Linked DNA regions of Homo sapiens. The protein of the gene in region 3 interacts with the protein of the main gene of each other region in a biochemical or structural test. Each region holds a gene or a part of one and is shown on either strand. Other genes may lie near its edges.

Region 1 (3,753 bases), on a different chromosome or scaffold from region 3:
GAGAGACAGGAGAAAAAACAGATCTACGGCAAACCTCCTACCACTACCAGTGATGCAGTTTGTCCCGTCTCAAGCCTATGAGCATATCCTTTCAGATCTGAAGCCACTTCCTTCTTCCTATCAAGGACAGTATTATCAAGTGTCTTTGTGAGAGGAGCAATCCTGTGCCCCTTCTTGCAGATTGTTTTGTTCTGCTCAAGAAGCCCTAGATTCCTCCTTTATTTTCCTTTCCTTATTTCATTTGCTGCAGCAGCCCAGAAACCCCAAAAGCAGGACTGCCAGAAATGAGTGACCTTTATATCTCTCCACACTAACACATCTGAGGGAAACTGCCGACACCAAATATGTGTTCATGAGCTAATGAAGCAGAAATCCTCAAAGGAAGCACCATTTGCAACGGCTGAGGACAGAATTCTTTAGTGGACACCAAAAAGGCTGTGGAACTCCTATGCATTCTAACATCTCAGGTAACATTCTAATGGAGGAATAAGGAGGCTTACAACAAAGTCATACAACACAAACAGAAGTCTGAAAATGCTGGATTTCGCAAATTTCTTTTAAGACAAAACAACTTTACTAACCTTATACCATAGCAGCTTTCTTCTCTGTACTAAGTGAGGCCAGCAAGTAGGAGGCATTTCCAAGGGGGAAAAATGACCACAGGATCTAGCCAAAGCAACCTGTCTCTAATACTCTCAAAAAACAAACAAACAAAAACACTTTGATTTCCCAGATTCACTCTGCAGTGATTCTAAAACTTTCCTAATGTAAGAATCACCTGGCTATTTCTTGAACACACAAATTCCCAGATGACACTCCAGATGCACTGAATCAGAATCTCCATGAGAACACCTGAGCTATTCTTATCATAAGAGAGGTTAGGGAAACACTGCTTGATAAATGTTATTCTCCCACCAGTGCCCACCTGTGCAGGGAGGTATGAAACAAGTAGGGCTAAGATGCTTTACCTGAGCAATCACCTCAGACATGCTCCTCACTGGGTTTGACTCCTTTTATGGAGAGCTGGGTGTCAGCTCAGTAAAGTCTACAGACAAGCATCTCTTTGGGTCCCTATCACCTGCACAGGTCTCAGGACTCTGAGACAAATTTCTGAGTAGATGTCAATGAGGACAAGTCATGAGGAGACGGATTACAGCTGAATATAAGAAGATCTTTCTAAGAATTAGAGCTGGCCAAAGATGGAATAAACTGCTGTGGAGAGCTGTCTACCACAAGAGATGTTCAAGAAGAGAGAAAATATGGTACCTCTTGACTAGAATGTTGTAAACATCAGATCCAGCATGGGATGGACAGAAAGACTAGATGAATTTTAAAGTTCCCGCCAATGCATAAGTCAACAAAGAGGAAAATTTCAGCCACTCCTTAATTAATTAAAAGAGATAGCAAAAAAAGTCTGTGGGTGGGGTCAGCTTTCAACTGATCCTATCTCTTCAAAGGAAAAAAGAACATAGAAACACACTCCAACTCACCATCAGCCTCTCCTATAGAATGTTCTAAAGGTGGGAAAGCAGGAGTCATAGATGCTGTGACTAAGACCTGCTGCTCAGTTGACTCTGAATTTGGGGCACATGCCAGACAAGTTCTGTAGTACAGAGAAGAAATGTGTGTAGCACAGACCTGGCCCTCAAGGATCAAAATCATGTGGCAGAGACAACTCAACACCATGTGATTCTCTCAAATATTTATTCATCATATTTCATCTTTAGTTTTTGTCAGTAGGGTGTTCAGGGGACTCTCTTGGTTCAAAAAAAAAAAAAAGCAAATATACTTTACTAAATGTACATATTCTCTCAATCCAGTACAAGTTTGCAATATCCAACTCAATGAAAAAAATCTCAAAAAAAATTATCAAAATAAATATAAACTTAGTTAACTCTAATTTTAAAAATAGTATTCCAAAAATGACTAGTCCCCAAAATGATGAAATTACAATAAGGTGTGGCTATTCTGGACAAAATAACAGAAATTGCTGGCCTAGTAATACAGTAATACAGGAAGCAGTGGAAGCAAACTTGAGTGAGAGGCAGGGGGTGGATGGCAGTGCCTTTGAAGTGAGATTCCAAAGTCAAAGTGACCTTTATAAATTGCAGAAGTGATCAGAAAAAGAAAGAAAGAAACCCCACACACAAAGAAATTCAAAATTACAAGTTAAAATGAAACATCTGGGGAAGGGAAAAATTTGGTTTTTCCCCAAATGTAAGGTAAGCATGACTCCTGCAAATACTGTTTTTAAAATGTCTAGGAGTACCACAGTTGTCCAAAATAAGAAAATGGCTAAAAATAATTGTTCGACTGAACAAGTATTTATTGTGTGCCTATTAGATACCAAGGCATCATGCCAGGTACAGGGGTAGGGTATGGGCATTAGAATAAACACATAAATGAAAATACACGATTCCTTCCTCATGTACGCATTAACAATAAGCACTTGAGGATGTTATAAGAGTTTTTGTGCACATAAGCGCATTTGTACACGAGATGGAAGCAATGAGGACAGTGAATGAGGCACTGGACACCAGAAGAAAGGAATTCTAGTCTCAACTCTAATTGGCTCTGTGACCATGAACAATGAACATCAGAAAATGGAGGACGGAAACAGTGGCTCTCCTACAAGGTCACCAAACCAATTAATAACAGACCTGGAGAAGAATTCTGGTCTTCTGGCTCCTAGTTCAGTGATCTGTCCAAAATACTACACATACGGTAGGCTGACAAAGAAAGAAAAGAAGACCTTTTGGTTTCAAGTCATTTGCAGAGAAAGGGGGAGAAACAAAAACAGGAAAATCAGGAAAGGGTGGAAGGAAAATCAATAGTTCAAATTTAGGCATTCGAACTGAGACATCAAGAAAGGAAGCATGTAACTATGGACTGTGAACACAATATAAAGAAAATGATGTAAAATTTCTTATATCCTTATTCAAATCACGCCTTGCAGTTTTTTACTCTAAAATCATTGCAGACGTATATAGATAAAGGGTCAAAAAACAACATGTATGAATGACATTTAAGGAAAAAGAGATAACAGAAGAAAAGGGAAAAGGAGAGGTGGAGAATTTATTATATCATCTAAATATATGAAGCCCTTCTAAAGGGTCAATGCAGACATATTGCACCCAGATAAATAGAAGAAATGACATTATATTCTATATCTCTTACGTTAGCAATTTTTAAATTCCTTGAGTCAGAAGCGTTAAACACTGGAATGACTAAGGTTACATTTGTTATGGAAATTTCTTAAATTTAGAAAGACCTCATACACACACCTGAAGGTAAAAAAAAATGTACTTAATCAGTGGGTTGCAACCAAGTTACTTGTCAGAATCACCTGTAAACCTTGAAAAAATATGGATTCTCAAACTTACCTTATCAGAATCCCTGGGTGCTGAGTCCAAGATCCACCCCAACAGATTTTGATGTAGCCAGGACACAGAGTTTTTTCTACCATAATGGGAGAGGTAGGGAGGAGGATCACTAGGAATGGCAACACAGAGTGGGAACTAGATCAATGCAAATTTTGTGGGCAAAATAGAATTTCTGTGGGTGTGATATTTTTAAGATGTATTGTAAGGCTGCTCTGAACCATCCAAGCATATCCCACTGAATTTAAACATTCTCTAAAGGTCCTGAAGTCAGCAACTACAATCCAGGTGAACCAAAAGTTGCTCCTCTATGTCATAGAAGCCTACAGGAGAGGCAGTAGGGTGGGAATGGAGCAGAGAGATCCCAAGAAGT
Region 2 (3,753 bases), on a different chromosome or scaffold from region 3:
TCAAATGTATTTATCAACACTGATTTGCCATACATAGTTCCCATCTAACAAATGAATCACATTTCAAATGTTTATAAATCAGAATTAGAACACATTTGCCCAGAGAATTAATTGTCAAAGTAGTTACGTTTGCAAATGGCCTATAATAATTATAATTTTTCATTATTTCTGTTTTCCTAGCTGAAATTCAGCATGCCAGAAGCCCTGTCCCTACCTTTCATCTTTCCACACATCAGAGCCCCAACAAGAGAAATTCCATTACTTCCTAAACTCTAAGTAGCAAAAGAACTTCTTTCCCCTTCCAATTTGTTACCATCCATCACCTCAGCAGCATATGAAATTCTGACTCCTTACACCTCATGGAGGTGAGGCCAAAGCAGAATCATTTGCCAACCAGAGCCCCAGGCAAAACAGAGTTCTGCCATGGCAGTTTTACACATGAGAGAGTCTTAAATCAGACCCCTGGATTTCAGAGGCTGCTTTTCTTGAATGGCCAATGTTCTCATGATTGAAAACTGACACACACACAATTATGGTGTTCGGTGCAAACGCTGATAAATTTATCTCCACTGTTAAATAATGAGTACCTCACCATGTCCAACGGGTACAATGGAACATTTGTAGTGCATATATATACTACTACACGTACAGCAAGAACTCAAAAAATGCTGGCCAGGGAAAACAAGGGGAAAAGAAAGGCATGGCAAGGAAAAATTAAAACCCACAAAATTTGCTGGGGTCTGCAGAAAATACAATTTTAAAAAAAATCCCTTTGTCCTATTCCTGTTGGAATGTCTTTTCTGATGAGACCTTCCCTGTCTTCTATGATCCAAATCAAATACTGTAAACTTTGAAGCTTTTCCTAAAAACCTTAACCAGTTGGGGACTTCCTTCTCTGTGTTGCCATATACCTTGCATTAATTATTATAGTGCTTATTGAATTGCAACATTTACATGTTTGTTTCCCCAGTAGTTATCTCCCCAAATAATGGAATACTTCATTCGTCTTTGCATTCCCAATACCTTGGACAGTGCTTGGCACATAGAAGGGTCCAATAAATACTTGTTGAATGAATGAGTAATTGACTTCTTCAAATGTTCAAAGACACAGTAAAAGTAATAACTCACATGAACAAATCCCAAATGAATTGATTTTCCAGTATTGCTACTAAAAAAATGAAATTTAAGCATGAAATCTCAACGTGGCCTAAATAGCGGATCTGAATGCACTGATATCTAAGGTAGGTAACTTCAACCACATGGAAATAAGAAGTACACAGCAAATACAGTCATCCCTCAGTATCCACAAGGGGTGCGTTCCAGGACCGTCCCCCAAAATCCACAGATGCTCAAGTTTCTAATATAAAATGGTGTCCTATTTGCATATAACCTACGCATATCCTCCCACACACTTTAAATCATCTCTAGATTACTTATAATACCTAATAAAATGTAAATGCTATGTAAACAGTTGTTATACTCTATTTTTTAAGGAAATAATGACAAGAAAAAAAATCTGTACATGCTCAGTAGAGATGCAACTATCCTTCCCCCTACCCCCTCGAAAATTTTTGAACCACAGTTGCTTGAATCTACAGATGCAGGACCTGCAGACACAGGGGACTAACTGTCCTCTTCTGTCACATTTTTAGAAGGTTATAAGGAATACTCTTTATTGTATACATGACTATTCCAGTGATAGAAATTACATATTGTATTTGGCATTTCTGACATCTAAAGAAATATTTAAATCAAAATGAACTTAGATACAGCATTCAGCCATATTCAGAAGGGGAAAAAGGTAATGGGATGCTCCAATGCAGGTTGAATCAGAAGAGTTCCTTTGTGCTGCCCACCAACTGAATGGTTCAAGGGAGTGGGAACAGGCACTAGTCCATAAATCCTCAATATCTTAAGAGATAAATACAGAGGAATGGCAAGGTAGCGTAAGACATGTTGGGTTAAGTAACTGATAGGTCTTTGGGAGTTACCAAGCTTTTTGGCAGTTGATGAGAACCAACGTTAAAGCATGAGACTAAAAAATATGGAAATGCACCATCATCTAAAGTAAAATTTTTTAGTGGTTGTTTGCCTAATCTTGCAAAAAATATTACATTTTATGTTCATAATTTTTACTTCCTCAAATCATAATACTAGAAAAGACCCTAAAAATTATATGCTGAAACCCCCCTACTAAGAGCTATAAGGGCAAATGACTTGCCCAAGGTCATACTGCTATCAGAAGCACAGTCTGAATTCAAATTCAGGTTTCCAGGATCGCTCATCTAGAGTTCTTTCCACTAGATGAAGTGCTTCCACATGGCTTTCATTAGAGTTTAGTCCTACACACACACACACACACACACCCCTCTAGATACACAAGTATGTTTGTGTATATACGTACAGACACACCCATATATCTACATAAACAGTTTTATAGCACTTGAAAAAAAGGGTGCTTCAGCAATATACCCAGAAAGTACACCAGTTTATTGAAGCAAATATTAATAGTTCTACAAGGTATTTATGTTTTTGAATAACCCACTAGAAATCAAACTCCATAACTATTTTTTTACTTATTCAATATATTAATTATAGGAAGCATAATGGTTAAGAGCATGGGCTCTGGAGTGAAAAACCTGCGCCTAATCCTCTAATCTTAGCTGACATTTAATTAGCTGTGTACTCATGGGTAAATTTGCTTAACCTTTCTAAGCCTCAGTTTCCTCAACTGGAAAACTGAAAAATAACAGAATTGACTTGATATACTTCTTGTGAGGACTAACTAGATGATGAATGTAAAGTGCTTTGCCCAGGACCTGAAACTTAATTACTCAGTAATTTAGCTATTATTGCCATTATCACTGCCTACTTACTAATCTCTGGGCTCTCAACAAATGTGCCCCAAAGAAAGTTGGCAGTATCTCTCTCTCTCTCACACACACACACACACACACACACACAAACACACACTCATTCCTCACTCATAATTATCTATTCTTTGGAACATAGATTATAACAGATTAAAAACCCTGCTAAGAAAATGCCTTTTGTTTTTCTTTTTTGAAGAAAAACCTCTTATCCCAAATTGATATTTTAAATTATCCAAACATTCAGTGCAAATATTGAAGTCTAGAATTTAAAAACACAAATTGTTTTCTGTCTTCTAACGCTCTCTTACTCTTTAAAACAAAATTAGTTTGGTTGCCTAAACTCTGCAAAGAGGAGATACAATCAACTCAGAAAGAAAATGAACCCCCCTGCTTCCCACTGAGTACTCTTTAAGTGTTCAGACACAAAGGACACTATCTCATTTACGGCGACACGAGTGAGAACAAATTAATCCCAAGATTTATTGTGCATTTCTTTAAACTCTATTATAATGTGAAATTAACAAAGTTATAAAAGGTCCCTTTTCCCTACTATGCAATCATGCCTCAAGTAAGTCAAAGAAATGAATCTTTGAAGCTATTTTATTTCCTAAAACTTAATAATTTAAGCAGCTAACTTCTCTGGTCTAAATTATTTTACCAATTATTCATGTTCTATGCTCACTGGGCAACTGAAAGGATACAACGTTTACATACATTCATTTCAATAGTCAAATATGTCTAAACCAAGCTTATTTGCGTTACTTCCTTTTATAGAAAATCTCAGGTTCTCCTTAAAGGTGTTACTGTCTGAGTTCCTAGAGAACAAATCTCAGCTGCAGAATATATAATGTAATTTGAAAGTAAATCAATACTAGAAACA
Region 3 (3,753 bases):
TACATTCCCACCAGCGGTGTATGAGGGTGCTGATTTCTCTACATCCTCACCAACCACTTGTTATCATCTGACTTTGATTCTGGCCATCCTAGTGGGATCTCATTGTAGCTGTGATTTGCATTTTCCTAACCAGCTCTCCATTTTTTAAAAACAGGTATACCTACCTTTTAAAAAAGTCATTGCTCCCTAGATCTGTTTCATACTATTTAAAAACCCCAAAATGAAATCAGCACTATTTCCACAGGAGCCCATTTGTGAGTAACAAACTTGGATAAGTTACTTTTCTCTGACCTCCCTCACTCCCTTTGTTTTGGATTTTGTTATATGTTGGTTTTGTTTTGTTGTTCTTGGCATTTTCTAGGAGAAGCAACAGTTTCAGCGCCATCTGACCCGCCCACCACCCCAGTACCAAGACCCGACACAAGGCAGCTTCCCACAGCAGGTTGGACAGTTCACAGGTAGGGGGTGTCTGTGTGACGAGCAGGGACAGGGGAGGCCGCTGCCTGGTGCTGGTTGAATCCCTGCTGTCTGCCCAGCTCTATGCCTTGACTTCATCAGGCTGCATGCATTGTCATCATATACACCTCAGTTTGCCTAAGGGGCCTGGTTTTCTAGTTACTCCACGGCATCAGGAGAAGAGGGCACAGAGGCAAACCACTAGAACTACCTTTGCTGGGTCCCTGGCTGTACAGTTTTCTGAAGCAAAATCATTTCTAGTTGGAGGACATCTTATCAGCAGGAAATAGCTTCTGTAATTCTCAAGAAAGTTCTTTGCTTCTGCTTTTATGTGTCTTCAAAAAATGACTCCTATCTTCCAGATAAGGACTTAATGCACTTGCGTGGCCTTTGGCTTCTTTCTCTCCTCCTGTCTGCTCACTTGAATATCACAGATGGCAGCATCACTAGTGGACAGTTGGCCAGAAAAGGGCAGGAAGCACACTTGAGTCTAGCTGTCGCCTCTGAGATGTGCCAGGGAACTTCATAGGCCATCCCTCCAGAAATGCACAAAGATTTCAGGGAATGGATACAGGAAGCTCTGGTCTGCCCGCCTTCCTAGCTCCTCTCAGAATGTCTTAGAAACCTCTGTTTTTCCTTATTTGGGACCTTGCTATAAAGGGTCCCAGAGAGACTGACCACAGCTGTGTGTCCTGGAGGAGACCAGGTACGGTTTTATGTATGTGCTACCTGGGGTCAACGTGGGGTTGAAATCTGCAGGCATTTCAGAAGCATGGGTCTGACCCATGTTTTCTGCCTTCAGACCCATCTGACATTTTGTGGATTATTGATGGGAATGAAATAGCCGGTTTCAGCTCTCCTCTTTTCCTCAACCCAATTTCATTGTTGTTGTTTTGAAACAGAGTCTTGGTCTGTCGCCCAGGCTGCAGTGCAGTGGCACGATCTTGGCTCACTACAACCTCCACCTCCTAGGTTCAAGCGATTCTCCTGCCTCAGCCTCCCAAGCAGCTGGGATTACAGGCGCCTGCCACCACGCCCGGCTCATTTTTGTATTTTTAGTAGAGATGGGCTTTCACCATGTTAGCCAGGCTGATCTCACATACCTGACCTCGTGATCTGCCCGCCTTGGCCTCCCAAAGTGCTAGGATTACAGGTGTGAGCTACCGTGCCCGGCCCCAATTTTTATTATATGGTTGCTAGTAGAGAGGAAGAAGAACAAAGCACTGAGTTACGGCCAATCCCTGAACAATGACTCTCCTACCCACAAAACCTAATTCAGTTAATGGTGTTGTCATATGTCCATTGCTTAAGCCAGGAGGCCTAGACAGCAGTTCCCTGAGCATAGGGGTGCTTTCTCTTCCACCCTCTGCTGTCTCTCCAGCACAGCACCTGCCACAGAGTGGGTACTCAGTGAAGATCTGGTAATTTCCTGCGACTCCTCCCTCCTTTGGCCACCTTGTCATTTCATAGTATAAATGGTGTGCCATAAGATGGTATATTGTCTGGTGAGATGTTGTCACACAGTTCTGCACCTCCACCCCCCATTCCCACATGGTCTGCCCTCCCTCATCTCCGTGACTGAACAGCCTCTCCCCAGCATGGTCTCAGCCACACTCTCAGTCCAGCCACTCTTGGGCTTTACAACCCTGTTCTTTGTTTGTTTGTTTGAGACAGAGTCTTGCTCTTTCGCCTAGGCTGGAGTGCAGTGGCATGATCTCGGCTCACTGCAGCCTCCGCCTCCCGGATTCAAGCAATTCTCCTGCCTCAGCCTCCCGAGTAGCTGGGGGCGCGCGCCGCCACGCCTGGCTAATTTTTGTATTTTTAGTAGAGACAGGGTTTCACTATGTTGGCCAGGATGGTCTTGATCTCCTGACCTCGTGATTCGCCCGCCTCGGTCTCCCAAAGTGCTGGGATTACAGGCGTGAACCACCGCGCCCGGCCACAACCCCGTTCTTCACACGCCATCCACAGCTCTTCCCTATCTGGCCGGAACTAGCTCTTCCATTTTATCTCTAACCAGCTGGCCACTGTCTGCATATCCCGGCCACGGCCAGTCTCTGAAAGTTCCCCACACAGATGCCTTTTTCTGACTCTGCCTTTGCACACACTTGCCTGGAATGCTCTTTTTCCCCAAACTGTTAAATTGCTAAACTTCTGTGCTTTTAAACCTAGTGGATTCATCACTGTCTCTCTCAAGCCTTGCCCAAGGCTTCCCAGATGCCAGGGCTTCCAGCCTGCACCCTGCAGCCTGCTGGCCAGGCGCGCCCCATCGCGCCCCATTGCGCCCCATCGTGCCATGTGCTAACTTTGCCTCCCAGAGGCGGATCTTGCGTTGGGTCCACCTCAGAGTCCCCGGTGCCCACCACAGGGTCCCCACAGAGCAGAAATTTGGTGGGTGCTTGAAAGTTAGATGAAGTAGGTCACTGGTTTTCTCTCCCCTGGGGCTTTGCCCTTCCTCTGTGCCTTTCTGAACCCCATCATTGTTTCAGAGACCAGGCCTCCATTCCACCTGTGGAAGGCTTTCTGCCCCATGGCCCCCGGGGCCCTCTTCCCAGTGTGCCGTGAACGTGAGACTTCTGGTGCTGCGGCTCGAGTCTCAGAGGGACCCAGTGGTGGTCGACTCCTGACTGCCAGACTCTTCTCTGTCTTGTAGGGTCCTCTGCTGCCGTGCCCGGCATGAACACCTTGGGTCCATCCAACTCCAGCTGTCCTCGAGTGTTCCCTCAGGCTGGGAATCTGATGCCAATGGGCCCTGGACATGCTTCAGTTTCCTCTCTCCCCACAAACTCAGGCCAACAGGACCGGGGTGTGGCTCAGTTCCCTGGCTCCCAAAACATGCCTCAGAGCAGCCTCTATGGCATGGCTTCTGGCATAACCCAGATAGTTGCCCAGCCCCCGCCACAGGCCACCAATGGACATGCCCACATTCCACGGCAGACCAACGTGGGCCAGAACACCTCCGTCTCAGCTGCCTATGGGCAGAACTCTCTGGGAAGCTCTGGCCTCTCCCAGCAGCACAATAAGGGGACCCTGAACCCTGGTTTAACAAAGCCACCGGTCCCAAGGGTGTCACCAGCCATGGGAGGCCAGAATTCCTCCTGGCAGCATCAGGGAATGCCGAACCTCAGTGGCCAGACCCCAGGGAACAGCAACGTGAGTCCCTTCACTGCAGCCTCCAGTTTCCACATGCAGCAGCAGGCCCACCTGAAAATGTCTAGCCCGCAATTCTCCCAGGCAGTGCCCAACAGGCCCATGGCTCCCATGAGCTCAGCAGCTGCCGTGGGGTCCTTGCTACCC

Evidence for each region.
Region 1: the proteins of MAML1 (region 3) and NOTCH2 form a complex in vitro, tested with the Homo sapiens proteins (one study listed by BioGRID).
Region 2: the proteins of MAML1 (region 3) and CDK8 form a complex in vitro, tested with the Homo sapiens proteins (one study listed by BioGRID).

The regions. Positions count from the first base shown.
Region 1 is NC_000001.11:120,062,987-120,066,739, forward strand, and holds part of NOTCH2 (neurogenic locus notch homolog protein 2 isoform 1 preproprotein), read right to left. Parts: intron 1-3,753. UniProt on the Homo sapiens protein: Functions as a receptor for membrane-bound ligands Jagged-1 (JAG1), Jagged-2 (JAG2) and Delta-1 (DLL1) to regulate cell-fate determination.
Region 2 is NC_000013.11:26,257,106-26,260,858, reverse strand, and holds part of CDK8 (cyclin-dependent kinase 8), read right to left. Parts: intron 1-3,753.
Region 3 is NC_000005.10:179,770,786-179,774,538, forward strand, and holds part of MAML1 (mastermind-like protein 1), read left to right. Parts: intron 1-361; coding exon 362-458; intron 459-3,109; coding exon 3,110-3,753. UniProt on the Homo sapiens protein: Acts as a transcriptional coactivator for NOTCH proteins. Has been shown to amplify NOTCH-induced transcription of HES1. Enhances phosphorylation and proteolytic turnover of the NOTCH intracellular domain in the nucleus through interaction with CDK8.